Linked DNA regions of Homo sapiens: all the other regions are linked to region 1. Evidence: fine-mapped expression QTL. A gene starts in region 1. Each other region holds a variant in brackets. All regions are shown on one strand. Distances are from middle to middle.

Region 1 (10,091 bases):
CCCCTCTTCCATCTTCCCAGCCCTCACCAGAACTATCAATTGCCAAACAGGAAACCATATTATTTGTTTCTTGTGTGTCATTCTAGATAATTTCCTATGCATCCATAAATAATTGCAAATACAGAGTATTTTTCCGCCCCTTCCCTTTTGCACAAGTGGTAGTGTGCAAATGTATCATATATACATTGCTCTATGCTTTAGTTTTTTATTTTACTATATAAAATTTACCCTATTCCTGGCCAGGCACAGTGGCTCACGCCTGTAATCCCAGCACTTTGGGAGGCCAAGGTGGACAGATCACTTGAGGTCAGGAGTTCGAGACCAGCCTGGCCAACACGGTGAAACCCCATCTCTACTAAAAATACAAAAATTAGCTGGGTGTGGTGGCGCACGACTACAGTTCCAGCTACTCCAGAGGCTGAGGCAGGAGAATCACTTCAACCCAGGAGGCGGAGGTTGCAGTGAGCTGAGTTGGCACCACCACACTCCAGCCACAGCGACAGAGTGAGACTCCGTCTCAAAAAAAAGAATTCTATTCAGCTTTTAAACAGCTGTATAATACTCCATCATATAGATGCAACACTATTTAATTAGCCCTACTACTGGGCACTTAGGCTAGTTTGTTGTTGTTGTTGTTGTTTTACTATTAAAAATAGGGCTACAGTGTATAACCTGGTGCTATTTGTTTCACACATTATAGCTGTAAGATAAATTCCTGGAATTGCTGAGTCAAACATTATGTATATTTTCATAAATCTTGTCAAACTGCCCTCCCAAGTTGTACCAACGTAAGTTTTCATCAGTGATGTATGCAAAGGTTGATTCTCCACCCTTACTGGCCTCCTCCGCAGCAGAGGTAGGGTCAAACTTTTGGATTTTTGCCAGCCTGACAGGTATTTCGGCCTAGTATTAATTTGTATTTCTTCATTTATGTGTTAAGTTGAGCATCTTTTCAAATGTTTGTAAACTACTTGGGTCTCCTTTTCCATCGCATGTATGTTATCTTTATAGGAAATGCTCATTCGTGTATTCATTCATTGACGGTGGACTACACGTGGACTTCATGTTGGCCACTATAGGAGCTACTACAGGGTAGATGGGTAAACTTGAGAGACACAGCCCTTGCCCTCTCAGAACATGCAATCTGATGGAAGAGAATAATTTTGAGCTAGCTATTGAAGATTTATGGAACACTTACATACATTTATCTATTTGTGAAACTATATATGTAACTTATACATGGAAAAATGCTTGGCTATATACTGAAATTAACAGAAATAATTTTTGAGTGGAAGTGATTTTTTTTTCTTTCCTTTGTGTTTTTCTGTATTTTTCAAGCTTTTGTAATGTATACACATTATGTTTGATGTTAGGTAATTTCTTTTCTCTTTGTTCATTGTTTAAGTTTTTCAAGGTTGGTTGGTTGGTTGATTTTTTTACAGGGAACATGTGTGATTTTTTGCAATTAGAACAAAAGGAAATAAATAAGAAGAAGACATCATACATACACCGTTTACCTATGTTTTAGACATAAATAAAACACAGGAAAGAAGAGTTCTTTCTCTAGAGTGACGGTGAGTTTGAAGAGGAAGATATAGAAATCCACTTTCAGAGCTGGGATTTGCTGTCATAAGTTCCAGCACAGGCCTTCACTCACCAGAAAAGCTGAGGACATGTCTCTCTTCAGCTGGGCAGCCTCTTCTGTGTCCAACAAGACAGGAATCAACAGCTCTGAGAGCTGGAAATCTGGCCTCCGGATCCAGGCCTGGGAATTTCCCTTTTCTGATGCCAGCTTCAGGCCCAGTGTCTAAGGGCGACCCCTGTTGGTGGGACTTAAGTATGCTCATTATTCGTGAGCTGCTTCTCCAAGGGTGGAGATGCCCAATTCAGTTTTAATTTTTTGTGGGTCTGCTGGAAACCTTGAGGCCCACAGCCCACTCACACACTACCCTAACTACATCCTGCTTCCCTTTTCTCCTTGTCCTCCACCCGTCTACTCCAGGTTTTCCTGGACAACTGGGTCTGGAGGCTTGGCGTATGGAGCCACAGGTGTGGCCAACCTTTTAAACTGTAATAAGGCAGGCTGCTGTAGGGTCAGGTGCTGTCTTTGCTGATCAGCAGGTGGAGTGTGGAGGCCCTTGTTTTAGGGAACAGATGTGGCATCCTGTCAGCAGACTGAGGATGCCAGACTTGGGCAGCTTGAGGCAACAGTGAGCAGGCAGGCCAATCTACTGCACAAGGATGTAGCTGAGGGGGCTGCATCCCACCTGAGGAAGGTGGGTTGGAGGCAAATGCAAAGAATGGAGGAAGGGCAGGCTTTCTGGGTGGCAGGTCACACCATTGATGGGCGTTTCCCTTCTCTCTGGAGACTCTCTGCTGGGAGATTTCGGCAAGAATCAGAAAACTAACACAGCCTTTCTTGACCAGCTCTTTCCTGTCTCTGCATTTATAAGAGCAAGACAATGGATTGCGAAAGTGTGGGCAGTAAATCCACCAGTGTCATGTTGCTATATTTATCCATAAAGAATTACGCGGCACGCCCCGTTCATCACTGAGTGCTGAATGGCAGTGCTGAATGGAGAACTGGCTGGAGAATCTGGTTTTAGACATTCGGAGCCTGTTTGTAATTCATCAGCACTGCTCTTTTCCCCTGGGCATTGGTCTGTGATAAAGAAAACTGGATACCAGAGGAATGTGCTGGGCATTTCAGTGCTTTGAGAAAACATAGCCAAGCACTTCTCAGGGCCCATCCCTAGACAGGACCCTGCCTTTACCACTTCATCTCCCAGATGGCTGTGGAGCCAGCCCCTCACCAGAGAGCTACCTGGCTCCACTCAGGCCTCAAATCTACTGTCTGTTGATGGAAAATCCTGCATGTCGTGCCAAGCCAGGCTGATTCAAGGTCGACCTTTCTCCATTTGGGCCAAATGCCCAGCACCCCCAAACCCCTAACACACAACTCTTTGTGGGTCTGGTTTCTGGGAGCTCCTTAAGGAAGAAAAACATAAACAGGAATCATGGTGAGGACTGGGGAGAGGGGCCCTGGGTCGGGGGGGCTCCATTTTATTCGGCTGGAAAGAAAAGGTTGGGGAGGAGGGCTTGCCATTGGATCCAGTTCATTACTTCCCAATAAATCAAAGAAGGGCTGAGAATCCTGACCACCACCCCCAGTAAGGATCAAGTTCCGCTTTCTGGAAGAGGCCTAGAGGTGGATTGCAGGACTTCCCAGTTTAACCAGGTGACAAAGGCTTCTGCTTCAGCCCAGATGTGATCACAGACTTCCACAGCTTCTGCCGACCACAGCCTGGCCTTAAAGTCCAGACCTAGAGTCCCGGAGCTAGTGTGTACTACACAGAATGGAGACCTTGCCTGAGGAGCTGGTTCTCAGAGAACACTGGCAGGAAGGAAGAAAGAAATGTATATTCTAGGAGGCCTCTGCTAACCAGGAAAGGGGGCTGAGTCACACTCTGAAAGGTGGAAGAGGCAGAGAGCAGGTATCAACGCCCTCATTTTACAGATTAAAACAAAACAAGAAAAACAAACACTCCTCACCTCCCTGCAAAAAAACCACCCTGAGGCTCAGACAGGGGAAGTAGCTGGCCCTGGTCACACAGTAGGTTAGCGGCAGAGTTGAGAGGAGACTCCATATGCCCTAGGGATGTGTTGTGATGAACTTTTCCTACTGGTACTGTTTCCTCCCGCGAGGGAATGTCTAGACCAGCCGCACCTTCTTGCTTTGACCCTTCAGAACTTTGGCCTGTCCAGTTAAAGAGGCACAGAGCCCTCCTACCCACAGGGAATGTTTCTAACTTACCAAGCACCTATTATGTGCTTAGAACTTGGACTTTCCTGATCTCATTTAAGCCTCACCATTCTAGTGAGGAAGCATCACAGAACCCATTTTCCTGATGAGGAAACTGAGACTGGGAGGGGTTAAGATCCTGTACACAGTTGTAACTGGCATGTCTGAATCCAGTTTCAAACCAAGGTGCCTTTCAGTGAACACCCAAGCATCTTCCTCTCGGATTAACTGCTAGGCCAATACCAAAATCTCTTTCTCGGGCTACTCTTTTGCTGCTGAGTTAAAAAGAGATCCTGAGACTTAGCCTGGGACCCCGACTCGCGGCGATTCTGTGGCAGGCGCAGACCTTTTCTCCTGTCCTCCACTGCCTCTTTGCCTCGGAGGGCGCCCCGGGGCGCGAGCGGGGCACGGGCGACCCTGGCTCCTTGGAGGCCCGGGGACTTGCTCTCCGCGGTCCGCCGCGGCCGCTCCACCGAGTCCTGGCCTCCAGCGCCCTCACCTGGCTGCTGCGGGCGGGACTCTGCGCACCCGGGCTCCGCGGGCTCAGGTCTGCGTCTCCCAGAGCCGCCGCCAGAGCCCGCCCCGGTCCGGCCCGGGCACAGGGCCCCCGCCCCACTTGGGCAAGGCGGGGGCGCGTGGAGGGAAGTTTCATCGGGGGGCGAGGGAGGGAGCTTCGGTGCCGCGCGGGCGTCAGGGGCTCCTCGGGGGAGGAGTCAGTAAAAGTGGCTATAAAAGCGGCCTCTCGGCTGAGGGCCGGGGAGCTAGCGCTCAAGCAGAGCCCAGCGCGGTGCTATCGGACAGAGCCTGGCGAGCGCAAGCGGCGCGGGGAGCCAGCGGGGCTGAGCGCGGCCAGGGTCTGAACCCAGATTTCCCAGACTAGCTACCACTCCGCTTGCCCACGCCCCGGGAGCTCGCGGCGCCTGGCGGTCAGCGACCAGACGTCCGGGGCCGCTGCGCTCCTGGCCCGCGAGGCGTGACACTGTCTCGGCTACAGACCCAGAGGTAAGAGGGCCTGGCTGGGGGCGTCAGGGATGAGCTGACGGCCCATGCCACGGAAGAGAGGTAAGAAGTGGGGGCCCGCGCCTCCACCCGGCACAGGGTAAACGTTACCCGCCTCAGTTTCTGTTTGTCTGTCCACCCTGTGCTGTGCAGTCTACCTCTATCTGTCTGTTTGTCCATGCGTCTGTTGATGGGCACACGCTCTTGGCACTGTCCTCTGTGGGATTTCTCTGAGATCTTGTGATGCTTTACAAGCTGCAGGTGCCGGGGGGCGCTGGAGTCCCCAGAGGGCATCCAGAGGGGGCAGACTCCTGCTTTCCGTAGATTTTCCCCCTTCTGAATGGCACCGGGGGCTTGCGCCCGGGAGAGTGTCTCGCCGAGGAGGGAGTACCACAAGGGTCAGGTCTCGGTGTCCTGCCGACTGGGAGCCAGCTCACGCCGAGCTCTAGCGGGCGTGCGCCTAGCAACAGGTCTGCGCCCTGCTGCTCCTGCCTCAGCACGCTCTTCCTCCCAGTTTCCCTCGCCTCCCAGTGCCTCCGGGACAGCGCTAGGCACCCAGCGACGCGCTGGCGCGGGGCCGAGCTGAGGCAATTGCAATGTTAGATGAACCCGGGGGGCTCTGCTGATGTTTAGACTGAGACTCCAAACGTGGCATCGCTGGAAGAAGGTCTGGTGGTCCCTGGCAAAGGACGTCGGCTCCAAGAAAGGTCGCGTTAGGTTGTGAGGAAAGGCAGAGAGTCCTGGCAGAACGCTGGCCAGGTCTCCAGCTCGCCGCTCTGGGAACGAAGGCCAGTGACATTCTGGAATGGACCCCAAGGGATGCGTGTGCTCATGAGAGAGGAGCGCTGTGCGCCCTGGGTCCTCAGCCGCAGACACTCTCTGCGACAGCCGCTGTTCCCCAAGGGTCGGACGCTACGGCAGTCCCAGGAGTTCCGCCAGCTGCCGGGTTTGAGGTCCTGAGTCCTTCTCCAAGCAGCCAACGCTACCCACAGGTGAGAGCTCCCTTTAAAAACTAATCTTCTGATGTGTGAGCCAGTGCCTGGCTGCAGCCCCATACCAGGGACGGTGAGCCGGGGAGCGCGTCTCTCCATCCCTGCGGTCTGGAAAGTGATCCAGGGCGCGCCCGAGGGCGGGGAGCCGGCGGCTCTGCGTGCCCAGGCGCGACGCCACCATGGACAGCTCCCAGCCACTTCCTCCACTCGGGGTCTGTGGCCCTGGGTCTCCGGGGAAGTCGTGCGCTTTCTTCCCAGACCCAAGGCGTTGGGGCGCTGGGAAAGAGGAAAGGGACTGAGAGTCCGCTGGGGCCCTCGGTATTACCACTCAGGAGGCAGCCCAGCCCTCAGGAGTCTGTGGTTTGTGACCAGGTCCTAGCTGAGCCGGCAGTTCTGCAGGACCTCCCGGGGGCACTCTGTGGTTCTCTGGCTTTTCTATGACACCACGGAGACCCCTCAGAGCTGTTAGGAAAGTATGGCCCCTGAGAATCCGACCCAGGCAGTGAGATAATGCCAGATACAATTACGCCAGACATAATTAGGGATCCAGCTCAAACTGTTTTCTGTGTAGGGCACAAGTTCATGTGTTCCATCAAATTAAATTATTTATTTAGTACATATGGGATTGGGAGGATATATTAGTTTTACGATTAATGATAGAATGGAGAAGAAATCAAATAGAGCAAATTTATAGAGAAGGCAATCGGATGCATTTGCAAAAGCAACTATGCGGTTTTCTGATCCTAATAGTTTTGTTCAAAGCCCATGACTTTCTTAAAGCAATTTCCAAAGGCTCCTTTTTAGCCCAGTAGATGACTTTTCAAGTTGGTCACTTGAAACAGGGTGGAAAAACCTGTAGGGTTTAATCTGTGCACCAAATTAAAGATCTCCCTTCTCTGGTAAGAAACGACACTGGATGGGGCTCTTTTTGTCATTTCCACCCATACTGAAGTGTGTATCTTCCTTTATTTTAAAATTACAAGAAACGCAGGTCTGCTTTTTTTGTGTGTGACTGACAAAGGCCGACGGAGAGTAAAAACAAGTAAACACCTCTTATAAAAAAAAATTTTGAGACAGCATCTGTGACTTTGGGAAAGTTGCTCAAATGTTTTGTGCCTGTTTGCTGATATGTAAACTGGGAATAACGCAATGCCATCTTGCAGGGTTGCTATGAGAATTACAGTAATTGGTACAATGTAAAGCATTTAATCCAGTGCTGAGCATAGAGAAATCGTTTTAAATGGTAGCAATTACAGGTATATTTTAAAGACAGTTGTGCATTTCTTTTGAATTATGTTCACCATCCCTTTGCCCTCTCTCTTAACCTAGTAACTGTTTGATAGGGACTCCATCTTCACTTTATTTTTGCATCCGAGAACTTGTTGATGGAATTGATGAAAATGCTGGAGTTGATCACAATGAAAAAAAAATTCTTATTTAAAGACAAATGGAAGAACTTTTATGTGATAAAAATCGGTCAACTGTTTTCCCCTACCTACACTACTTGGAGGAAAGATAAAAGTAAGTTGTTTTCAAAATACTCTCACAGCCCTCTGGTTCAGATGATCAATTTTTCCTGATTGTTCTCTCACAAGAATGCAAGGTCTTCTAAGTGGCTTTGTTGTCTTTCTGCAAGTGAAGTACTCTTGGGTATTGATGGAGAGTGGCCTCTAAGGCCTGGTTTCTAGATCACTCCAGGATGAAGTAGGGGTTAGCTTTATGGAGTGGAACTTTGCCCAGGGGTTCACTGAGTGGTCATTGCCAAGCAGGAAGCACCTTACTTCATGCTTGAGCCTTGCTTAGGTGTGAGATTCTGACCAAGATACTTGCTCTGCCCAGAGCAGTGAGCACTTATTTGATCCCAGCTGGACTGGAGGGTCCCTTCCAGCTCTGCATTTCAGGGTTCTGTCTGGTAGACATCACTAATACATGACACACCACAGAAGTTTGGAGAATGGAATTGTATAGTACCCAGTCTTCCAGTTAGAGTTTTCTCCCCCCACAAAAGTGTGTGTGTGTGCGTGCATGTGAGTGTTTTTATCCCTGTCAGTTTTACATTCTGGTGCTCTTAGATTTTTATTCTTCTCCTCCTTCTGCTCTTAATAGCTCAGAAGGAATCTTAGCTTCTTCCGTCTAAAAGGATTGGAGCTGAAGAATACATGCTACAGATGCTCAGAATCTTTCTATGAGACTGCTGGTGACATGAACAGAGCAGGAGGACATGGGGCCTTGGATGACCTTGAATTCCTGGCTGTCTTCTGTGGACTCCCATGCAGATTCCAGTTTCCAGCATACCCATGGCTTTCTGGTAAGAAAACTATTGAACTACAGGACACTCTTGGAGTGAAGGCCAATGAGGGGAGGAACTGTCATGTAAAGTGGTAGAAACGAGCTCTTCATCAGTCCTGTGGCATTCTGCCTATTGCAACAGTATCTGAGTCCTCAGGACAGACAGAGCAAATGGCAAGAGTGGCATTCAGTGGGGAAGGCCAGCAGAGTGAAAGGGGTGAATTCAATTATTCTCATCAGCCTCCTTTGAAGCCTGCTGCTTAAGTGACCTCTTTTTAGTACCTTCTGTGGTATCGGCAAAGCATCACAATTTGATGGATTAAATGCAATTTGCATTTGCAGTTATAGCTCAAAAGAGAAATGCAAACATGTAGGTTGGGTTCCTAAATGGGAACAAAGTTGTATTTGTGAGTTGCATCCACAAGATAGCATATCTTTGAAAAGTCTGGACTACACATCTCTTTCTACATGATGGCACATACCCAGGTGTTTGATCTTATCAGGGTAAAGCATCAGCTATCTCTCACTGCTTGTTTTTTACCATTATCTGGAGGCAGTTTCAGTTTCCTTTGAACAGTGAATAGGAAAGGATCACATTCTTACTCTCTTGTATCTGGTTGGGTTGGCAGGAGGCTGGAAGTGGCAGTGGGTACTGGGGGAGACTTCTCAGTGCTGGGTTCCTTTCTACTGTTTTGCAAGCTATTCAGCTGGGCCTGAACCTCCTTTCCCTAAAGTCTGGCATGTAGAAACTTTGCTAATTTGAGTAGGATGGTGACTGTCATGGTGACTTTTATTAATATCTGCACCTCTTTGCTTTAGCTACTTTCTTCAGGGGCCATCTTATCCTCTCTGGCAGGCCCCTAGTCCTTCTTTTTCTTCTCTGTGCCCTGGCACCAGGCTTTGTTCAAGCTTGGTTCTTCAGAACGGAGGCTGCTTGCAGAGAAATGTCATCAAATATACATTTGCTGTCTGCTTAGTTCCCTTGGTGTTAGGAAACACACATGGCCACCCAGAGGGAGAGGAGCTGCTACTCCTCTCTGCCCCTGTTATTTTTTAGGGCCTGTCCCTAGACTCAGCTTGGCTCCAGGAATCTGAATCCATCCTTGCCTCCCCACCCCTGCAGGTGAGTGAGCCCTGGGGAGCACAAGCAGTCAGGCCTTCCTTGCACAGGCACCTGCTCAGAGCAAGGAGCTGGACAGCCTGGCTCCTTGCACTGGGATATCTTTGAGTCTTCTGGAAGGGCAGTCATATCAGGGGTTTAGATGCAACTTCAGTTTAAAGTGCTTTGCCCAGACTTTGAAAACCTTTGAAGACCAGGTCTTTGAAAGCCCTGTGAATTTCTTTCTCTCCTGTCAGTAGGAGAGCTGCACCATTAGACATTTTCTGTTACGGAGAAAGCATATCTAGATAGTTGTTCTGGCATGGAAGGTGTCCATGCCAGATTGCTGTCTTACCTGTTTTTAGACATCACACGGAGGAGGGAGGGCCACAGGCTTCCCCAGGAGCCTGCTGCACTCTTTGGCCCTCTCTGAGGTGAGGAGTTCATGCTGTTCTCCAGAGTCTTTATGGCTGTAAGGTATGCACTCAGCCCTTGGGACGAGGAAAGTGCAGTGGCCTGGAGGACAGGCACATTTTTCTGTGGCTCTGCCAGTCAGGAAAGGTGGGAACCATTGGAGTGTTCCTTGGGGACTGCTTGCTGCTTACTGTGACTGTACTCCTTGCCTGGACTATCAGCCAGGACCTGGGCAGGTTCCTTGACTTCTCTAGTCCTTTGTTTAGGGGTTAGGTTAGACCAGTGCTTCTTAGACTTAAAATATGCCAGCAACTCACAGGGGCACGTGTTAAAGTGAGAGTTCTGATTTGGCAGATCTGAGGTAGGGCCTGAGAGTCCACCTTTCCAACATGCTCCCAGGTGACGCTGCTGGTGCACAGAGCTGCCTTCAAGTCGTGGGGGCCTATGTCATTATGACATTGATGACTTTCTGTGATTCTGATTCCAATTCTTCTTG
Region 2 (10,091 bases), 160 kb after region 1:
AGAATCAAAAGTATAAGTAAAATGTTGGGATGGGAGGGCAATAAAAAACACCTCTTTCCCCACACAAGTGCTACGCCAGCTGGGGGCAGACAAGCTGGCAGGGGAAGAGGAAGTGATCCACCTTACTGATGATAAAGCTGTTGGAGAATAGAGCTTTCCAATATCATCCCCAATTTTACCTCCTCCGCCCCAGGGAGCACTGGGCAATTACAGGCTCCCCACATAGGGCCCAGCCCGAAAACCTCAGAGCATGGAAGACAGACCAGAGTGCCCCTGCTCTACGGGCTGAGCCAAATACCCAAAACCAACCAATTATATGAGACACTCTCTTCCCATGGGAAGAAGTGGATGAGGGGAGGGCCCAGGGGCCAGGAGTATTTAGGAAAATCCTCCCATATGAATACCAGAGGAGGAGGAGTGAGATATGCCCCACATACCACTAGGAAATATTATGATTAAAGTAACAGATGTTGATAAGGTAAAGTCCCTGGGATACCATCCATGCAGATTTTCTTCTTTCCGGCTCATGAGTGAAATGTTCAAAAGATGTGAATTTTTCAAATGGAAACTTCCACTAAGTAAGTTGAACCTCTTTGATCAAAGTCTTAAAAATCTAAGGCTGGTCTGCTTGTCACCTTAAGCACATTTTTTGGTTGGTAGCATAGCTTAGCCCTATGCCTGTTGATCATTGTGTTGTGTTTCAATTCAGCAACGCCTTAGGGACCAGGAGTTGGGTTATAGGGGGTCTGTTTCCTATGGAGAAGGGCTGCAAACTCTTGGGCTTTTAAAAATCTTTCTGCCTTATACGTTTGTTGTTTCTTATACTCAGAGCACCTGCCTTTAGCAGCTACCTTCTAATAATCTACTATGGGCTAGGATACTTAACAACCAGCTTGCTATAATTAGGGGTAAAATTAAAATAAGTCAGCTAAAAGGGAGGGGATTTCAAAGTGTGAAATATATAAGCTCTGAATCATCTCTCATTTTTTCCAGGTTAAAAAAACTGTTAAGTGATTGTAGCTGTGTTCTGGATAGCTAAGTTTGCTTAATACCACCTCAGTGAATTCTTATAATGATTCTTACTAAATTATAAACAAGTACATTATTTAAGGTGCACAGCCATCAGTAGCGCTGCTCTGCAACATTACTTGGTCATAGCCAGGATTTGAGCACTGGGCTGGCAGATGCCCAGGCCCGTGCTCCTTTCATGCCTTCCAGGGCTTTGCAGTTCAGCCAGCTTGCACACATCCAAGTTGTAGGTCAGGATTAGGGAAGGCAGCTGCTACCTACCATGGGCTGGATGGTCTTTTAGGTCACTCCCAGTTTAGATAATCTGATATATAATGGCAACAAGGAAACCTGAATACTGTTAAGTTTTGTGCAGAAGCCTCAGGACCAATCCCATTTCTGTGCTTGGTCCCAGGAGTGGTTTGGAGCATGTTGGGAGCCTCCAGGGAGACGTGACCATGGGCAGCACTGAACTGCCTTCCTCCTAAGCTGCTCAAAGCGGGTGCTCACCTGCCTCCCCAGCTTCCCCACCACGCAGGGCATGGAATGCAGATATGGCTGCTCTGCTCTCAGCCCTGAGCACGAGGCCTCTGTAACAGTCAGTTTCTACTTTACTCTGAGATCACTTGATGTGGATGGCTTGAAACATAAAGCCTCTCAAGGAAGCTCAGATTAAGTGGAGGTGCTACAGAGAGAAGACCAAGGGGTCTTCAAGAAATAAAAACCCAGCTGGGCCTCATGGGCTCAGGTGCTGACAGCAACCAAGACAGCAGGGAGGAGGTAGCCTGCCTACCCCTTGTGTCTCTCCATCTCCCCATGTTCACACACATACGCACACACGCATGGCCTCTTGTTTCAGCTACTTGCTGCAAACTGCCTTCCTCTCGCGATTCCTTAGCAGGCATGGGGCACAACAAGGTTGTCAGCCCCAACTCCATGTGGTCTTTTAGTTCAAGCACCACCCGGTGGTGGACAAGACCTGCTGGGTCCCATAAGAGCGAGAATCTTGGTTACTGGTTGGCCAATCCATGGCCCCTCTGTGAGTCCAATGTGTGCCCCTGGTCTGAGCAGCTGTGTGGTAGGGGTTTGGGGGCGAGGGCATTGTGGTGCAAACCCAGCTCCCTAGTCTGACTGGACTCAGTGAAGGGTTGGTCCCCAGAGCAAGATGGGTGGTAGATACCCCATATCCTATCTTCCCATGTTTCAGATGCAGGACTCAGCCTGAAAGCGCTTTTCTGCACTAAAAGAACAATAATGAATCCCAAGTTAGTACTGTGTTTTCCTCATAATCTGACTCCCTGTAACACTGGGTCAGCTTCCTTTACAATAATAATTATTATTTTAAATAAATTATAAATAATTTTTGGAATAAATTATGGTTTGGAGAAAACTAGAGATAGGAAGACAGAGCATCTCCTCACCGGGCACAATGCTGGGATGGAAAATGCTGGCTTTGTCACTTCCCAGCTGTGTGGTCCTGGGCGAGTCACTTCACTTCTCTGAGCCACCATTTTCCCATCCAGGAATTCAGGATGATAATAGTACCTACTGGACAGGATTGTTTGAGGATTAAATGAGATATGTCGATTTACGATGTGTGCACGGCGTGGCACATAGAACGTGCTCAGAATAGAATTGCCATTCTCATTAGCTTTTTCTTCAATGCATTTGTTCCTTATTTCTCCAACTACATGCAACTCGGTGGTAGACATGGTTCCATTCTATAAGGCCGCTGGGTCTACCTGCTATGACCAGCTCAGAGTAAATGTCTCGGTGGGTGGGAGGAGAAGAGGGAGGTTTGAGTGTCCAAGCAAATGCCCAGCAATGCTCCTTGTGTGCAGGCTGTTGTTCCTGAAGCTGAAAGCTCAGAACGAGAGAGAGAAGTTTGCTTTCTGCTCCATGAAAGGCTGTGAGAGGATAAAGATTAAAGCTCTGATTCCAAAGAACGCAGGCGTCAGTGACTGCACAGCCACAGCTTACCCCAAGTTCACCGAGAGGGCTGTCGTAGACGTGCCGATGCCCAAGAAGCTCTTTGGTTCTCAGCTGGTGAGTGGCTGAGAGCAAAGCCTAGACCCCTTTGCCGTCCAGTCGGGCCTAGAGCCCTTTGCCGTCCAGTCGGGCCCAGACCCAATTAGGTCCCTCACTCAGCTCCATAAACCATTTCCTGTGACTGGGGATACGGGAAGAGGAGGGGAATGACTACCCAAACCTAACAATTACATTGGGTTCTATGTGTTTTCCAGAAAACAAAGGACCATTTCTTGGAGGTGAAGATGGAGAGTTCCAAGCAGCACTTCTTCCACCTCTGGAACGACTTCGCTTACATTGAAGTAAGTGCCTCTGGCCCCTGGAGGATTCGGGTTTGCTCATTGAGAGGTGATACTGTGTCCTGCGGCTGCTGGCACAAATTACTGCAAACTGGGAGCAAGGTGTTGGCAGGGGTGGTTTCCTCCAGGGGGCTTGGGGCGGGGAACCTGTTCCATGCCTCTTCTCGCTCCTGGTGGCTGCCAGCACTCCTGAGCATTCCTCAGCTTGCAGACACATTAATCTCTGTCTTTATGTGGGCTTTTCTCCTGAGTGTCTGCGTCTCACCTCTCCTCCTGCCTTTCTTTTGCAAAGGCACCTATCTTTGAATTTAGGGCCCACCCTAAAAATCCAGAAGGTTTAATCAAAAAATCTTTTAACTTAATTCCGTCTGCAAAGATTCTATTTTCACATAAGCCCACTTTCACAGGTTCCGGGTGGACATAACTTTTGCAGGGCCACTATTTGACCCACTACTGAGGGCTACGAGGAGTTAAGTGGATAATGGAGTTTACGCTTCAAATAGATGCATAGGCAACTTCTGCCTTCAGGGTCTGCTTGGGAACCACCTGGGCAGGAGAACCATGGGGCCTTGGCACCCTGCCTCACACCTGGATTGCTCTGGCTCTGTAGGTGGATGGGAAGAAGTACCCCAGTTCGGAGGATGGCATCCAGGTGGTGGTGATTGACGGGAACCAAGGGCGCGTGGTGAGCCACACGAGCTTCAGGAACTCCATTCTGCAAGGCATACCATGGCAGCTTTTCAACTATGTGGCGACCATCCCTGACAAGTGAGTCTGTACCTCTGCTTCTGGAATTGGCTGCTGGCACAGCAGACCCCTGGGCAAGGGCCCCCTCCCTCTCACAAAGGCCCTCATCACAGATCAGTCTGGAAAAGCTCAGGCAGTCTCCACAGCCTGCCCACAAATCATGGGTGTTGGACAAGAGCGTCCTTGCCTGTGGACTCTGGTGTTGGAGCTGGGCTGCTGTGAATGTAGGTCAGGCGGAGGCAGGCGGGACAGCCCCGCTGCACATGGGAAGGTTGCCCTGGCCCTCTTCACTACACTCCCAGCATGATCTCATCCCCTCCCACACCTTCAATACGATCCAAGTGCTGGTGGCTACTATCTCCAGCCCGGATCTCCTTCCTAAGCACCAGACATTCCAGTCCAACTGCTACTTGGACAACGCCACCTGGACATCTTGTATGGAACTGAATTCTCAGCCTTTTAAAATGTTTAACCTCCCAAACCAGCCACTCATCCTACTTCTTCAGTTTTGATGAAATCATCACAATTCATCCTGATAGCCAGGCCAGAATCTGGGCATTCTGTTTGTCTCCTCTTTCTTTCCTCCACATGCTATCATCACACCCTATCAATTCTGCCTGCAGTACTGCTCGCCTGCTGGTTCCCTCCACAGCGTCCTCTCTTCTGCCACTCTGCCCCGGCCTTTGCTGTTCATCACCAACACTGTTGGCACAGTCTCCTAACGGGCCTCCCTCTTCCAGTTGCCCCAACTCCAACCCATCTTCCATATTGGCCGCTGGTTTAAACTTCTTAAATGTAGGGAAAACCTGTGTCCCCTCTCCTTAGCAAACTTTGGTAATTCCCCAGTACCTTACAAGTCTCCCCACATCGCCTCCTCGGTGAGGTCTTTTCCGATCCAACCCAAAAGTTCTACCTTGGCAGGGCGCATTGGCTCACACCTGTAATTTCAGCACTTTGGGAGGCCGAGGTGGGTGGATCATGAGGTCAGGAGTTTGACATCAGCCTGGCCAATATGGTGAAACCCCATCTCTACTAAAAGTACAAAAAAATTAGCTGGGTGTGGTGGTGCACACCTGTAGTCCCAGCTACTCAGGAGGCTGAGGCAGGAGAATCGCTTGAACCCAGGAGGCGGACGTTGCAGTGAGCCGAGATTGCGCAGCTGCACTCCAGCCTGGGTGACACAGCAAGACTCCGTCTCAAAAAAATAAAAAATAAAAGTTCTACCTCTGCTAAAGCACTACTCACAATAGGTCTGGTGGACACATCTGTTGCCCCATCAAGAGTGTGGCCTTCTCAATGTTGGGGCCATG[T/G]CTAACTTCCCTTTGCATTTCTAGCACAGAACATGGCTAGTTAAGTGAGTGTACAGTTCACTCAGGAGCCACAACCTGGTGGAAAGTCTAAGCGCTTCATGTGGTACCTGCTACATAGTAGGTGCTTAGTAAACATTAATAGTTATTAAATGAAAGCAAATGTACTTCCCAGATGCTGACTCCATGAGGGGCACGACGTGAACTGGGCACCTGGCGAGATTTTGGATAATGGGATTTTGCTTAACCACATTTACTCCCTCCCTCATTCCCCCATCAGATGCTTCTTCGGCATTCTATTTTTCATATGCAGATTCAGACAGAGGACAAGGTTGACCAAATTGGGAAAAATAGTTATCCTCTAGAGATCATGACGTTTTGGGCAGAGAATTTTCTTTTGAAATGAAAGATGATGCAGAAGCTTGGAATAAGAAACTAGACTGCAGTGCTACTCTGTTTGGAACCATGTGCAAGGCTCCCACCAGCCCGAGCAGCAGCACCTCTCTGGGGGAAGCCCTTACTGGAATGGGCCACTCCCTGGGCTGGCGCTGGGCACCCAGGCAGGCATTGGTACCACTAGACCCCTCTCTAACCTCCTGGAAAGCAGCAGGGAATGAGGCAAGGTAGATCCTGTTCTACTGTGGCTGCGGGCCCTGCCTAGCCTGGCCCATGCTTCCTACCCCATCCAGCAGGCCACTACTGGCCCCAGGGTCCTGGGGAGAGAAGAGGGCAGCTGCTCACACCAGAAACATCTAGCATGGCTTCTGGGAGCTGCCTCTGCACTGCCACTCTGTGGGAGACTGTGCTGGCTGGGGCATGGGCTTATAGGCCATGAGGATGGCACACCAGGCAAAGAAGTGTTCCCAACATAGGTAGGCAGGCTTCTGGGCATCAGTGGGAAGGGGTGGGGACACAAGAAGCCCATCTCTCTGTCCCGCTCCTGTGAGCTAACTTAGATCCCCATCAGGAGGGCAAGACCTACATTTGAGTCCCCCAAGTAGGAAGGCTGAGCTCCAACAAAGGACCATTAGCTTTTGTTCTGAAATGAAACAATGCAGAAATATCCTCCTGAGAACAGATCCTGAATCTAGAGTGGAGGATGTGTTAGCAATGAGACCTGTCTCCTTAAGGGGCCTCACCCTACCAACCCTTTGGGCCTCCCTCTCCAGCCTTCCTCAAGGGCCTGAGGCAGCCCCAGCTCCCTTCCCATCTATCCTTATTTCACACAAGCCCTTCGCATCTTAAGATCTTTCCCGCTGTTCCCAGTGGGACACAAATGGGGGTAACAACAGGTTCCAGAATCCTATACAGTTTTTCCATGTCTGGACTGTGGTCTGTGGTTACAGAGTTCCTTTGAGATACAAACTGGACGCCCCATTGAGCTTCTGCCCCATTTCTATTCCCAAGGGAGGTGCTCACTTCCTCCTATCTGGCCCAGTGTGCTGAGTCTGCCACTGTGAAGGCTATTTTCCCAGCACTTTGGACTGAATACACCCCGAGGCAGGGGATAGACACTCCTTATTCCCAAGTCGAACTTTTGCAATTTGGGACCTTCAGGCTGGGTGCACACATTGCTCCAAACCTCTGTGTCTTTCAAGCACATTTCCCTTTGGTAGGTCCTCTGAGATACTTGGTAACTATTTGCTTCAATCTCCCCATTTGCAAAATAGAGGCAATAGCCCTGTGTTGCCTAACCAGAGAGAGGTGACGTGAACGTAAGAGGTCAATCTGAGCTCTTGGTACAACCCGAGCATCATGGTAACGACATGGTGTTCTCCCAGAAAGACTTCAAACCTGGCCATGCTCTTCCTGCAGCTCAGAGAAGGCTGGCTCTGGACTACACTAAGCCTGTGTCCATCAAAAGAAGACAGCAAAAGAAAGATGCGCTCCAAGAGAAATCTTCTAGCATGGGGCTTCTCGAGCTTTAATGTATACATGATCACCTGCAGATCTTGTAAAAATGCAGATTCTGATTCAGGAAGTCTGCAATGGAGGAATTCTGTGGTTCTAATGAAATCCCAGGGGATGCCAAATGGAGCTGGTCTCTAGAACCTTCAGGATCTAGAACCTTCAGGAGCTCCTGGATGGTTTTATGATTTGACAGATGCTCCCCTCCGCCTTCCCGCACCTCCTCTCTTTCTCTTCCCTTTCTCCTTCCTTCCTCCATCACCACATTTCTATCTGGTCTTACCTAACCAGGGTTGAGAACATTCAAGGGAAGAGATACATATCGAAGTCCTACTGTGTGCCGAGCCCTGGCATGGTACGCTCTGCTTACATCCTCTCCTCTGTTTGGAGAGAGACATGTAAACGCGGTGAGCCAAGTCCAGGCTTGGAGAAGGCTGTGGGCACCAACTGTGGCCAGATGTGTGGGAGGGAGCTCAGGATGTTCGTCACCACATGGAAAGAGCCCGTCAGCTCAGAACACAGGAGAGGCTGCCCTTTCCCGAATCCCTGGACAGGCCTCTGGGCACTGCTAACTCCAGTCCCACCATGCACAAACCAACATCCCTCCCCATGCCCACTTTCTCCAGTTTGCTCTCTCCCTCTGGTCTAATTGGTTTCTTCTCACACAGTTCCATAGTGCTTATGGCATCAAAGGGAAGATACGTCTCCAGAGGCCCATGGACCAGAGTGCTGGAAAAGCTTGGGGCAGACAGGGGTCTCAAGTTGAAAGGTAAGGGTTTGAACTGGGGTTTAAACTGACCCCAAAACCAGAGAAGGCAAATGCCTGGCATGGAGGGTGCTGTCATCTTTTGCTGAGTTGAGAACATGCTTTGTACTAAACGTGGGTACAACCTAAGAATCCCCCACACAACTAGTGGTCTACTGGAATGGATGGGCAAGATGCCACCTGTTTACCACCCCTGCACTGCAGCAAATTTATTATAACTTGCCACCAGCCACTGAAAGAAAATTGCTATATTTGTTGACTCATTTGCTTGGAAAGTGGCCCTTTATTCAACAAAAGTATCATAAGAAAAGTGGCTTAGTCTCACCCTCCTACCCAATTCCTGCTATTCAGACTGGCCAGGGGTCCTGCATCTTCTTCAACATTCTAGCTGATGCCTAGCGTTTGTACAGTCCTTTGCAGCTTGCAAAACTCTTATTTGTTCCAGAAAACTAAAGCCCAGAGAACCTACATGGCTTGTCCAAGGCCAGGCAGCTTCGGTGGTGAAGCCTAGCACAGGCTTGCTGGCTGTGCTGGAAGAAGCCATCCAGGAGGGACATGTCAGCATGACACCCATTATCATCACAAAAACTAGGTGCAGGGAGAGTCCTCAGAGAGGCTGTATGGGCGGCAGAGAAGCTCCACGGGCAATAATGATAATGATCATTGTGGTTGCTATTCAATGTTCAGCCTTGCACTTTGCACAACATGTTATAATTATCTCACTTACTCATTAATAACCTGTGCAGCAGGTACTATTATTTCCATTTAAGATGAGGACACCAAGAATTTAACAGCCAAGCCACTTGCTTAAGGTTAGGACTTGGATCCTAATCTTCCTAACTCAAAGCTGGGCTTCTTAGTTATACACCATCCTCACTATGGAAAACATCAAAATCAGAAACCCATCATATGGGGCAATGAGAAAAATCAGAAGCAATGCAAACCCTTCAAACCAGCCAAAGGAGGACATAAGGAAAAGAGAAGTATCCTTTCCAGCCCAGTCCTGAAATCATTTTGGAGCCTCTGTCTTTTAAATTAAGATCCCGGTTGCCAAAAGCTGATGTATGTAAGGTGACCTAAGTTGAATGGCACTTTCCCGGTGGTGATAAATGCATGTTGCCTGCCAAGATGGGCTGAGTATAGACGTGGATTCCCATGCCCCTCGGATGCTCAAGCTGTGAACTGCAAGATGGAGAGTGCTGTGTGGGTTTCAGGGGTTTAGAGTTCTAATCTGGGGTGCACCATTTACTCCACACTCTTGGTCAAATTTCTTCACCTCTCAGAACTCTTTCTAGAGCCACAGAGTGATAGAGTGGGGAAGGAGATCTTGTAGATCAATGCCATCATTTGATGGATGGGAACACTGGGCTTCAGAGAGGGGCAGGGACTTGCTGGTTGTCCTAGGGGCAGCTCAAAGGTAGGCAGGTTCCTAGGAGGTCTCCTCCCTTACAGTTTGCCCCATTTCCTGCTGTGCATGGCTCCCCTGTCTACAACAAAGCCATCACCCTGCCTAGGTGGCAGTGAGGCTCAGGTGAGACCCTGCCTGCCCCATACAAACACATGTCAGGCACCATCAGTAGCTGAGCACAGAGCTCTTCCCAAGGGGCCACAGTGCAGTGTGGCTAGGCGGTACCTGGTGGGCGTGGGGGGCTGGCGATGGGGAGCCATGGAACGGGGTGGGGCAGCCGTCCTCTCATAGGGCTTTTGCTCAGGAGACTCATCATTGCTTTTCAGAGCAAATGGCATTCGTTGGCTTCAAAGGCAGCTTCCGGCCCATCTGGGTGACACTGGACACTGAGGATCACAAAGCCAAAATCTTCCAAGTTGTGCCCATCCCTGTGGTGAAGAAGAAGAAGTTGTGAGGACAGCTGCCGCCCGGTGCCACCTCGTGGTAGACTATGACGGTGACTCTTGGCAGCAGACCAGTGGGGGATGGCTGGGTCCCCCAGCCCCTGCCAGCAGCTGCCTGGGAAGGCCGTGTTTCAGCCCTGATGGGCCAAGGGAAGGCTATCAGAGACCCTGGTGCTG
Region 3 (10,091 bases), 110 kb after region 1:
AGAAAAGCACACAAATGTATTTCAGATAGTAAGTTTTAAACGACATGGGAGCCTTCATAAGGAAACGAGGACCCAAATACACAGTTAAACCTGAGTGTCTGTACACGAGGTTTGATGAAGTGGAGAGCTGTGGGAAAATGTGGTAGGACAAGGGGCTTGAGTTAAACACAGTAAACAGGGGAAATTTAGCAAGGTCTCTGTTCCTTCAGATTCCTCTTGGCTTCCTTCTGTGTTTGGGGATAAGGATGCTCTTTTTCTCAGAATAAGGAAGGCCCTCTCACATAAGGGTCTTAGACCTGCTTCAGGGGAAAGTCAGAAACTCCTTCCTGCCATTTCACAAATTCCTTGAGCTTGAAATATTCAATATGCCAAGTTGCCATTTTGGGGGGTAGCGTCTCCTGAACTTCATTACTGCATTAGGCATTACGCAAAATGCCTAAAACAAAATGGGGTAAGAAAACCTTGCTGCCCTAAAGCAGCACGTGCTTTCATGGAGGAATGATGGATGTACAATTTTTCAAAACCTTAAGCCTTTTTTTGCTTCCCTCCCCATTAAGAAGAAGAGAGATTTCTCTCCTTTCCACGGCCCAAGGCAGATGGCTAGGGCAGTCAGTCATGTTAGCCTCTGGTATTTTCCTCGAGCTCAACTCTAGGGGAGCTGAGCATGAGAGAAATAACCTTTCTCTCTTGGAACATGTTTTCCTGAAGGTATCCAAGCATTTGCTTCAGGACATAATTGAGCCTGGCGGGTGGTATAGTAGGTCTGTTGGCTTGTTTGTTTATTTGTGATTCATGCTCCCATCTTCTGCCAGAATGGAGCTGAAGAGGCTCACAGGGAGCAAACATCAGGCAGGCCAGGGAGCGAGAAAGCCCAGAGGAGTGCTTGCAAAGAAAGGTGCTTCTTCTGGAGAAGAGAAGCCCAGCAAGTGAATGAATTTCCCCCAAACAGCAGGGAGGGACCCTCCTTCACCTGACGCTGCTTCAACTCTGCCCCATCCCCCCACACTCTGTGCAGGTACAGACTCGTGCAGAACTTTACTTTTTGTTATGTTTTTCTTTTTTTCAGACACCCTTGGAGTTTTCTAACTGTGAAAGGAAATCCATCATCTTCAGTGGAAGACCATATTGAATATCATGGTAATACATAGCTGGCTGGAGGCCTGATTCCCTCCAGTGTCTCTCTGATCAAGAGGTGCAGGGCTTTTCTGAACATCTCACTTTTCTCAGAGCATGGCTTCCCAGCTCCCAATGTCTAGATGAGTGAGCAGCCGCTTAACTGGCCACCTTACATGGAAGTGGCAAAGGCCAATGCTGGCCAAAGGCCCATCACTTGCAGTAATATTTCCCTTTTCATGGAAATCTTCACTGACTTAATCAAAAACCTAGAATTGGCATAGAAAAGATAAGAACTGAGATAGAGCCAGCAGGGGTGGTATTTTAAGAGCTAAAACGAGGCTGGGTGTGGTGGCTCACGCTTGTAATCCCAGCATTTTGGGAGGCCGAGGCGGGTGGATCACTTGAGGTCAGGAGTTCGAAACCACCCTGGCCAATATGGTAAAACCGTGTCTCTACTAAAATTACAAAAAAAAAAAGAATTAGCCAGGCATGGTGGTGGGCACCTGTAGTCCCAGCTACTTGGGAGGAGATTGCACCACTGCACTCCAGCCTGAGCAACAGAGACCCCGTCTCAAAAAAATTTAAAAAAAAAGAGCTAAAGCGACACTTTAGATGGGCCTTCAGGACACAGTAGTAGCCTCCTTTGCCCAGCAAAGGCTGCGGGAAGCGCTGCAGTTCTAATGCCAAGGAGGAATTCAGACCGTGAGACATGCTAGAGCTCTGCAATCTGAATTTGTTGGGAGGCTGGAACTAAACTTTCAAAACTGAAACAAAAGAATGGATGATCATCTCTTCCCAAGTGAATGAATGTCCTAATTTTCTTTTATTTACTTAAAAAATATTTTTAAAGAAATGAGTCAATGCCCATGTGCGTAGGGGGGTTTCCTTGCCTTGGAGTCACAACTTTTTGAATTTGGGGGTCTGTCCAGCTCCTAAAGGGTCTCGTTTCTCTGACAGGACATCGAGGCTCTGCTGCTGCCCGGGTATTCAAATTGTTCCAGACAGAGCATGGCGAATATTTCAATGTTTCTTTGTCCAGTGAGTGGGTTCAAGGTGAGGAGTTTCAGACAATTTGGTGACACCTAACAGTGGGATAGAAGACCAGAAATCACTGTCTTTGCAGAACTAGGATTTATCTCTTATACCAGTAGGACCACTTTAATTTTTGCAGAATCAACTAAAAATGTGCAACCAAAAGTTGTCTTTAATTAGACAAGCCACTTTAGCCCATAGCCCAGAAGGATGTTCTCCTCTGGCTAAGATTTCAATTTCACCTCAGTCAGGGTCTGCGGCATTCAGCTTAGTTCACGGAATATCTTTGATGTGGCAGGCAATGGCACTGAACAGGAAATGCAGATAGGAATAGAACCTGCCCTCCAAATAGCCCACATGCAGGGATTGCAGAAAGCAGCAATCCTAGTTGCAGTCCTTGGATAACGGGTTTACAGATGGATTTTCTTTCTTTTCTCTTTAATTTGCTTTTGCAATAACAAAGAATATAAATTGCTTTTATAAAAGTAAGAAACTCATTAAGAGAAACTCATTTTTTAATTAAAACATGGGAGCATAGGCAGATTGATTAGAGCCATCCATGCCCCAGCCTGGTGCAACCATGGACAGATAATATTCAGTTCCCATGGTGCTGAGGATGCTTGGAGACAACACTGAGTGTGACTTGCCCTCACAGACAACCTCCTGTCTGACTGTGCTGTTTGCTTTCTGCCTAGACGTGGAGTGGACGGAGTGGTTCGATCATGATAAAGTATCTCAGACTAAAGGTGGGGAGAAAATTTCAGACCTCTGGAAAGCTCACCCAGGAAAAATATGCAATCGTCCCATTGATATACAGGTACCAAACTCACAGCAAAAATAGAAAATAGAAATGTGTTGTTTTGAAGAAGACTCTATAGATCACAGACATTCTTGTCACTTGGGTGCTGTGATTCTCGTTGCCCTCCTGTGAGGTAGGTCAGCCAAAGAGTACCATTCCCACTTTAGAGACTGAAGCAGAGGCTTACTATCTGCCCAAAAGCCAGGGCTCAGATTCTCTCCTGGGTCCAGCTTCTGAGTTCCTTCTCTTTAACTTGCTTCTTCAGCCATGACTGAGTGTGCCCCCACCACAGGGATGGGTTTGGACTCCCCAGCCTCACTTCCCCGTCAATTTCCTTAGGGACCTTGAGTGCACAGGATGCAGCTAGGATTTGGGGTGCAGGCCAGGCCAGCCCAGATGGAGAACACACGCATGGCCTTGTTCTCAATTGAGCTAAATCAAAGCCAGCATTCATAGAATGGACAGTGTTTGCTCAAAATCTTCACTTAGAGTTAATTCCATCTGAAGGGGACCTTGATGTTCTCAGTTGGCTCCATCAAGAAAGTGTTGAGTAAATATACAGGCCTCACCAGCTGAGCCAGTGGGATACTAGGCTTTGGGAACAACAGGAGAGACAGGAGAAATAGGCAAAGTAAATGAGATTTATCTCCTTATGCCCAGTCTCATTCCAAGACAAGATTTGAGGCTGCTTAAATGCTTGATAGAGAATTAGAAGTCATTTGAGCTGGGCTCAGTGGATCATGCCTGTAATCCCAGCACTTTGGGAGGCCAAGGTGGGCAGATCACTTGAGGTCAGGAGTTAGAGACCAGCCTGGCCAGTATGGTGAAACCCCCTCTCGACTAAAAATACAAAAAAAAAAAAAAAATTAGCTTGGTGTGGTGGCGGGTGCCTGTAGTCCCAGCTACTCAGGGTCTGAGGCAGGAGAATTGCGTAAACAGGAGGTGGAGGTTGTGGTGAGCTGAGATCGCACCACTGTACTCCAGCCTGGGTGACCGAGCAAGACTCTGACTCAAAAAAAAAAACAAAAAAAAACCAGGCATTTGAGAAAGGCCATCTCCACCCATTTTATCCTCCTTCAGCCAATAAAAATAGCTACCCCATTTGTACAACACTTTTTCCTAGAATATCAAAGCTCGGGTCCCAGGTCAGCTCGAGTCCCAGGCCATCTGTCTGTGCTTTCACCCCGCCACACCATCCTGGGCAGAACTTCTACCCTCTGTCTTGCCTTGTAAGAAGGACCACTTATCCAAGGGAGGAGCCTCTGTTCTGCACTTAGCAAAGTCTGAGGAAAACTTTCTCATTATTTGGCTGAGACTCTTCCCTTCACATGGCTTCAGTGTTATTGAGAAGGATTTACCCAGATTAAGTTTCAAGTTGCAGATTCTCCTTGGGTCCAACAGAATCAAAAAGCACTGATCCCCCACAGCACATTCTTTCCAGATTTAATTTTAATTTTCTCTCATAACCTTGAATGTTCCAGCTTTAATTCTGAAATAGCCATAATCTTATCCCTCCAGTTCACTTGACCACAGGAAGTCTAGCTCTTTACCAACCTCCCCTCTCCAAATACTTCTGGAAATGCTCAAGGAATGCTTACATGGTCTACAAATCTTTCCTGGTGTTTGCTCTGCCAGTTTTCTGGCTCCAGACACTGTTGATTGGAAGACCACCTCTCAGTGCCAGGAAAACAGCATTCCTTAGACATTCCCCACTCTTGCATTTACTTTGCTCCCAGCACAGACACAGGCCCTTCCTAGAGTGTCCCAAAACACAATTAAACCCAGGCTGAGAGCTCCATAAGCCAAGACCTTCATAGGGACCCAACCCTACACTCTATAACTGTTAGTCTGTTGCCATATTGCAAGACCTAGTTTTCTTCTAACAAAAAGAGTTCCCTTGGCAATACATTCCCCAAATTCAAGTTCTCCATTATTTGAGGTTCAGAGAACAGAAGATTCAACAGCAGTGTGGTCCCCTTACTCAGAAGCTTAGGGAAGTCTTCCCACAATGAAAGCATTCAGAACTCCCAATTCCATAATAAGACCTTTGGCTTTTTCTTGGCAAAACCAAGGTCTATTGAGATGGTCATCTAAAAGATAAGAGTCATGTGCCTCCAAGGGTGAATTCAAACCTCCATCTCTACCGAAGAGAAGGTGTTGCCACGCTGGAGAGATCAGGCTTACTCCTAATTCTCGCCACCAATCTTTAATCAATGGTCATCTCCAGACTTAGCTAGAGCATCTCTTCATGCTCATCAAAGGTAAAAATGGTGATGTAGAATATGCTCCTGGATGTTTCCAAGGCCAGAAAAACAAAGCCAGTCTTTCCTATGCTCACAAGAGGTGAGAGAAGCAGGATTTCCCCATTTTTAGCAGGTGACAAATGCATCAGCCAAAAGTTAAATGTCCTAGTTAATTAACCCAGGGAGAGACTAAAATGAAACACAACTCCCCACATGCTCATTTTTGCCACTATTGCAAAAATGCAGTTTTTCTCTGGTCACCTGGTGCCTCTCACCTCCCCGGGCCCTGAGCTTTTACGTGCTCCTCTTCCTGCTTGTGCCTGCCCCCAGTGCCCAACTCCGTGTCATACACAGTGGGTCCC[G/A]GCATACCTGCCATGCACTGACATAGCCAGATCCTCTGGGCCAGGGAGTGTCAAGGACATTTGCAACCTAGGCAAGATTGGAGGAGGCAGGTTGGGAAGAAAGAGGAAGCAGCAAGACTGCACAGTTGACCTTAAGAAAAGCTTTTCCAAGATCTGATATTTTGTGATTCTGAAAAAAATTATAATAACAAAAACACACTGTTTCTATGTCTTGCCCTTCGTTCAGCTCTCCTTGGCTGAAAAATCCTCTTGCCTCCCACCTTCTCTCTTAAAACCCAGCCACCCTTCAAGGCCAGTGGGATCTACTGGACTGAGATTTCCTTGGGGACATCAGGCAGTCTGTGTGTTCCCCACAGCAGCTGGTGCAGTGGCTAGAGGTCGGCCTGATGGTAACAAAAACATATTCTGAAGCCAGAGAGATCACAGCTCTACCACTTGTGAGCTTTGGCATATCAGCAAGTGAGGTGCCCACGGTGCAAAATTTAAGGCAGCCCGCTCCCTCCAGCGCCAACTCTGCACTTGCATGACCCTAAGAGTGGGTGCTGCCTTAAATTTTGTGCCCTGGGTACCTCACTCACAGTCTTGTTACTTAGTGTCTCGTTTCCTCACAGCAAAAATAGGGATAATAATTATTTCCTCATGGGCATGTTTTGTGGATTCAGTGCAATGAAGTGTGCAGACTGAAAAGTGGCCCATACATTTTTTATTATTTAAAATTAATTTATTGGCTGGACTGGTGGCCCACGCCGGTAATCCCAGCACTTTGGGAGGCCAAAGTGGGTGGATCAATTGAAGTTAGGAGTTCGAGACCAGCCTGGCCAAGCTGATGAAACCCTATCTCTACTAAAAATACAAAAATTAGCTGGGTGTGGTGGCGGGCACCTGTAATCCCAGCTACTCGGGAGGCTGAGGCAGAAGAATCGCTTGAACAGGTGGAGGTTGCAGTGAGCTGAGGTGGCGCCATTGTACTCCAGCCTGGGCAAGAGAGTGAGGCTCTGTCTCAAAATAAATAAATAAATGAAATGAAATGAAATGAAATAAAATAAAATAAATTTACTATTAGTTATTATATTGATAATTATTTTGTTAATACTTATTATTACCAAGAATAATAATAAACTCAAGTCTACTTAAAGATCTCTTTCTCTGAATGATGATGGATTCCTTTTACTCTTCTTATCCAAAACTGAGGTCATTTTTCAGGTTAGAAAAAAGGAAAAAAAGAAAAAACAGCAGAATTGAGTAGATGTTCTCCTGGAATTATTGTTGGATGTTATACCTGGAAAAAATCTCCAGCCCCCTTCGATAATGTTTTCAGGCTCAGTTCTCAATCTTACGGGGTCTCCAATTGAAGAACATGCTACCCTCAGGGGAAAACTTCAGGAGGCCCGAGGAGCTGGGCTTACCTTAACTGACCTTGAGCTTACATCTGAACCCCTCTGAGCATCAGCGTTGACCTCCGTCTAAAAGCAAGTTTGCAACCCCTGCCTCTCTGGCTGCTGCAGAGACCACCTGAGATAGGGGGTGTGAGTGTGTTTTTGCAGGAAATGACTGAGTTTTAATTGTGGCTGAACTCACATCCACATGGCTCTTCTTCCAAGCCAAAGATAACGGAGCTGCTGGGTTTAAAACAATGTTTCCTAAAAAGTCTCCTCTTTTTTTTTTTTTTTGACTGGCTATACTTTCCTTCCTTATTACCCCAGTCTGGTCCCTTTGGTCTCTATGCCAAAGATGACAGCAGCTGCAGCCCTTGCTCTAAATTGCATGTCTTTGAATGATAGTCATGGTCAGGATGCAGACACACCCTGGCTCTGGGATGGGCCCCAGCTGGCAGGGATCATGCCCTCCCTGGAGGCCTGCTCCCTAAATTCTCCACCTGGCCTTGTAGCTGCTCACCAGCCAGCCCTCATCCACTGAGACCTCACTCTGTGCCAGGCCCTGGGCTGAATGCTGGGGACAAGGGGGCAAAAACCAGCTCCTTGCCCACCCAGAGCCCACCATGCGGTGGGAGGAGGCAGACATTTGAACAAAAGACATTAGGCGGCTTCCACCTTAGGGCAAGAGTGGATGGGGCTTAGAAGTGTTGTGATGTAGTTACATAAGTCTGGGTTCAAGTTTTAGCTCTGCCACCTACTGGCTTTGTGATCCTGGGTAAGTAACTGAACCTCTCTGAGGATGAGTTTCCTTATCTGTAAAACTAACAGCAGCCTCATAGTTTTGCTATGAAGATGAAATGAGATAATATAGGTAAACATCTAGCTTTAGTGGTTCTCAAACTTTCTTGCCCATTAGAATCACCTGGACAACTTTTCAAAGTCCAGATGTCCATGCTGCACCCCAGACACAATCAAATCTGAGGCTCCGAGGATGGGGACTGGGCATGAGTATTTTTTAAAGACTCCTCCCCATGGGATGCAGAACCATGTTTGGACTGTTGGCCGCTGTTCATGGTGCTGGTAGTGGTGGTGCAAATTGTAAAAAGTGGCCAGCCCAGATCCTAGAAGAGTGGCTACTTATTGTAAATGCTCCGTAAAATGTTCACCCAGCCATAAGCAGTAGATCACTGGTTTCGATACTGAGTACTGTAGGACCTCAGGCCAGGCATTTATCTATTCCAAGACTTTAGGCTGTCTTTCTCATAACAAAACTGATGGGGGCAATCATTGGGATAATCATCTCGGGCCGTTGTAAATAGTGTTGCAGCAGGGACAATTTTAGACTTCTGAGTATATGTTTAGAACATTAATCAGCACCTTCCTTCTCTATAAAAAAAAAACGACTTTGCTCTGTAATTTCTGTGTCATTCCCAGGCCACTACAATGGATGGAGTTAACCTCAGCACCGAGGTTGTCTACAAAAAAGGCCAGGATTATAGGTTTGCTTGCTACGACCGGGGCAGAGCCTGCCGGAGCTACCGTGTACGGTTCCTCTGTGGGAAGCCTGGTAAGCAGCCCCTTGTCGGGGACACAGATGCAACTATGGCTCGGTTCCTTGAACTGGCAGCTATGCAGGCAACTTCCAGACCTCTCAGTGAGACAGTGCTCCCAAAGGAGAGCACTTTTGTGACACGGGAGCAGTGGGAGGATCCTTGGAGTTGGCAGGAGACAGCAGAACCCCACCCTGCCCATAAGCCTTTCAGGAAGGGGAAGGGCCTGGTCCAAGGCAGTCAAGGTACAAATGGACAGAGCTGCCCTCCCCTGCAGAGATGTGCAGTTCTTTGCCTCTTTGGGTGCTATTATTTTAAATCCAGTACCTAAGGTGCTTGTTAGAAGAGATTGGAAATGGTCGGGTTGTTCTCGGAGGCACTTGGCCATCTCCAGAAGGCAGTCATTAGGAATGAAAGTTTAGGGGGAGAAGTTTATGGCTACCGAAAATAATAGTTGAGAGGAACTATATTTGTTTTACATCTTGAGCAAAGTGGGTGGGGTGAGGCAGCCACATTTAACTCCAGCTAAGAAGTTAGTGGAAAATTCCCCCGCCCAGAGCTAATGAATGGCTCTTTTCTGGTAGGGTTTTTGTTGACTTCAAAAACCTTTACCAAGAGTGGGATGGAGCAAGCCAGTGATCTGGGTTTTGGATAGGCAAACCTGGCATTTAGTTATTTAGGGAGGGGAAGGGAAAAAAGAGGTAGCCAAAAGTTTGCCAAGAGCAAAGGGCTCTATCTCAGTCTTTCCTGTTTTGGGTTACAGTGAGGCCCAAACTCACAGTCACCATTGACACCAATGTGAACAGCACCATTCTGAACTTGGAGGATAATGTACAGTCATGGAAACCTGGAGATACCCTGGTCATTGCCAGTACTGATTACTCCATGTACCAGGCAGAAGAGTTCCAGGTGCTTCCCTGCAGATCCTGCGCCCCCAACCAGGTCAAAGTGGCAGGTAGGACTTTTACTAATCCCTTCCTAGACTGGATGAATCTGAAAATTGTTAGGCTTAAAGTAAACTGAAGTTACAACAAATCTGTATCAGTCAGCTATGGCTGTAATAATGCTGCATAACAAAAAAAATCTTAAAACTTCATGACAGGTCTTTATTTCTTACTCATGTATCTGCAGGTTGTCTAGGGATCAGCTTCTCTAGACTGAGCCTGACTCCAGGCTGAGAGTTGGGTTCAAGTCACTTCCATATGACTCCCATTCTTCCCAAAACATATTCTTCTCACGGGGGAGATTGCAAACTCCTAGTGGTGAGCAGAAACACAGAACTCTTAAGGCCTAGGCTCAAAGATGGCACATTCTCACACATTCCATTGGCTAAAGTAAGTCACATGGTAAAGCACAACACAAATAGGCTAGGGAAGCATATGTCTGTCACCAAGTTTGAGGGGGAGGAAGTGAATATTTGTTAGACAGTTATTCAATCTACTACAAAATTTTTAATCTCTTGTATCTGTGAGTTTGGGGTTTTTCTTTTTCTTCTCCTAAATCTTGATTTAGATGTCCTGTAATTTATGTTATTGGAGGTTACTGGAATCACAGATTGTTGAAGGTAAAAAGAGACTTCAAATATAATCCAGGTCAATTATTCTTAGTAGGGG

Which allele goes with the higher level. Alleles are on the strand shown, and positions count from the first base shown. SD is a standard deviation of normalised expression in the study named.
In carriers of allele T in region 2, the expression in lymphoblastoid cells of the gene that starts at base 4,560 in region 1 tends to be lower than with G alone (large effect, 1.1 SD a copy in GTEx).
For the expression in cerebellar hemisphere of the gene that starts at base 4,560 in region 1, allele A in region 3 goes with a higher level than allele G (moderate effect, 0.55 SD a copy in GTEx).

The links. PIP is the estimated chance that this variant, and not a neighbour inherited with it, causes the effect.
Region 2: its variant is fine-mapped to the expression of CEMIP in lymphoblastoid cells (GTEx, PIP above 0.99).
Region 3: its variant is fine-mapped to the expression of CEMIP in cerebellar hemisphere (GTEx, PIP above 0.99).

The regions. Positions count from the first base shown.
Region 1 is chr15:80,774,811-80,784,901 of GRCh38, forward strand. CEMIP (cell migration inducing hyaluronidase 1) reads left to right here and starts at 4,560. Exons shown (of 30, transcript NM_001293298.2): 1 at 4,560-4,804. RefSeq lists a silencer at 4,182-4,461 and an enhancer at 5,082-5,587.
Region 2 is chr15:80,939,000-80,949,090 of GRCh38, forward strand. CEMIP (cell migration inducing hyaluronidase 1) reads left to right here. Exons shown (of 30, transcript NM_001293298.2): 26 at 2,850-3,054; 27 at 3,252-3,338; 28 at 3,946-4,103; 29 at 7,966-8,066; 30 at 9,798-10,091. The coding sequence ends at 9,925. It also overlaps a transcript of MESD not described here. Among named protein-coding and RNA genes, the nearest start is that of MESD, 46 kb to the right of the region's middle. The variant T/G (reference allele first, on the strand shown) is at 5,393.
Region 3 is chr15:80,886,628-80,896,718 of GRCh38, forward strand. CEMIP (cell migration inducing hyaluronidase 1) reads left to right here. Exons shown (of 30, transcript NM_001293298.2): 8 at 1,067-1,137; 9 at 2,074-2,169; 10 at 2,844-2,965; 11 at 8,363-8,495; 12 at 9,242-9,433. Among named protein-coding and RNA genes, the nearest start is that of MIR549A, 50 kb to the left of the region's middle. The variant G/A (reference allele first, on the strand shown) is at 5,553.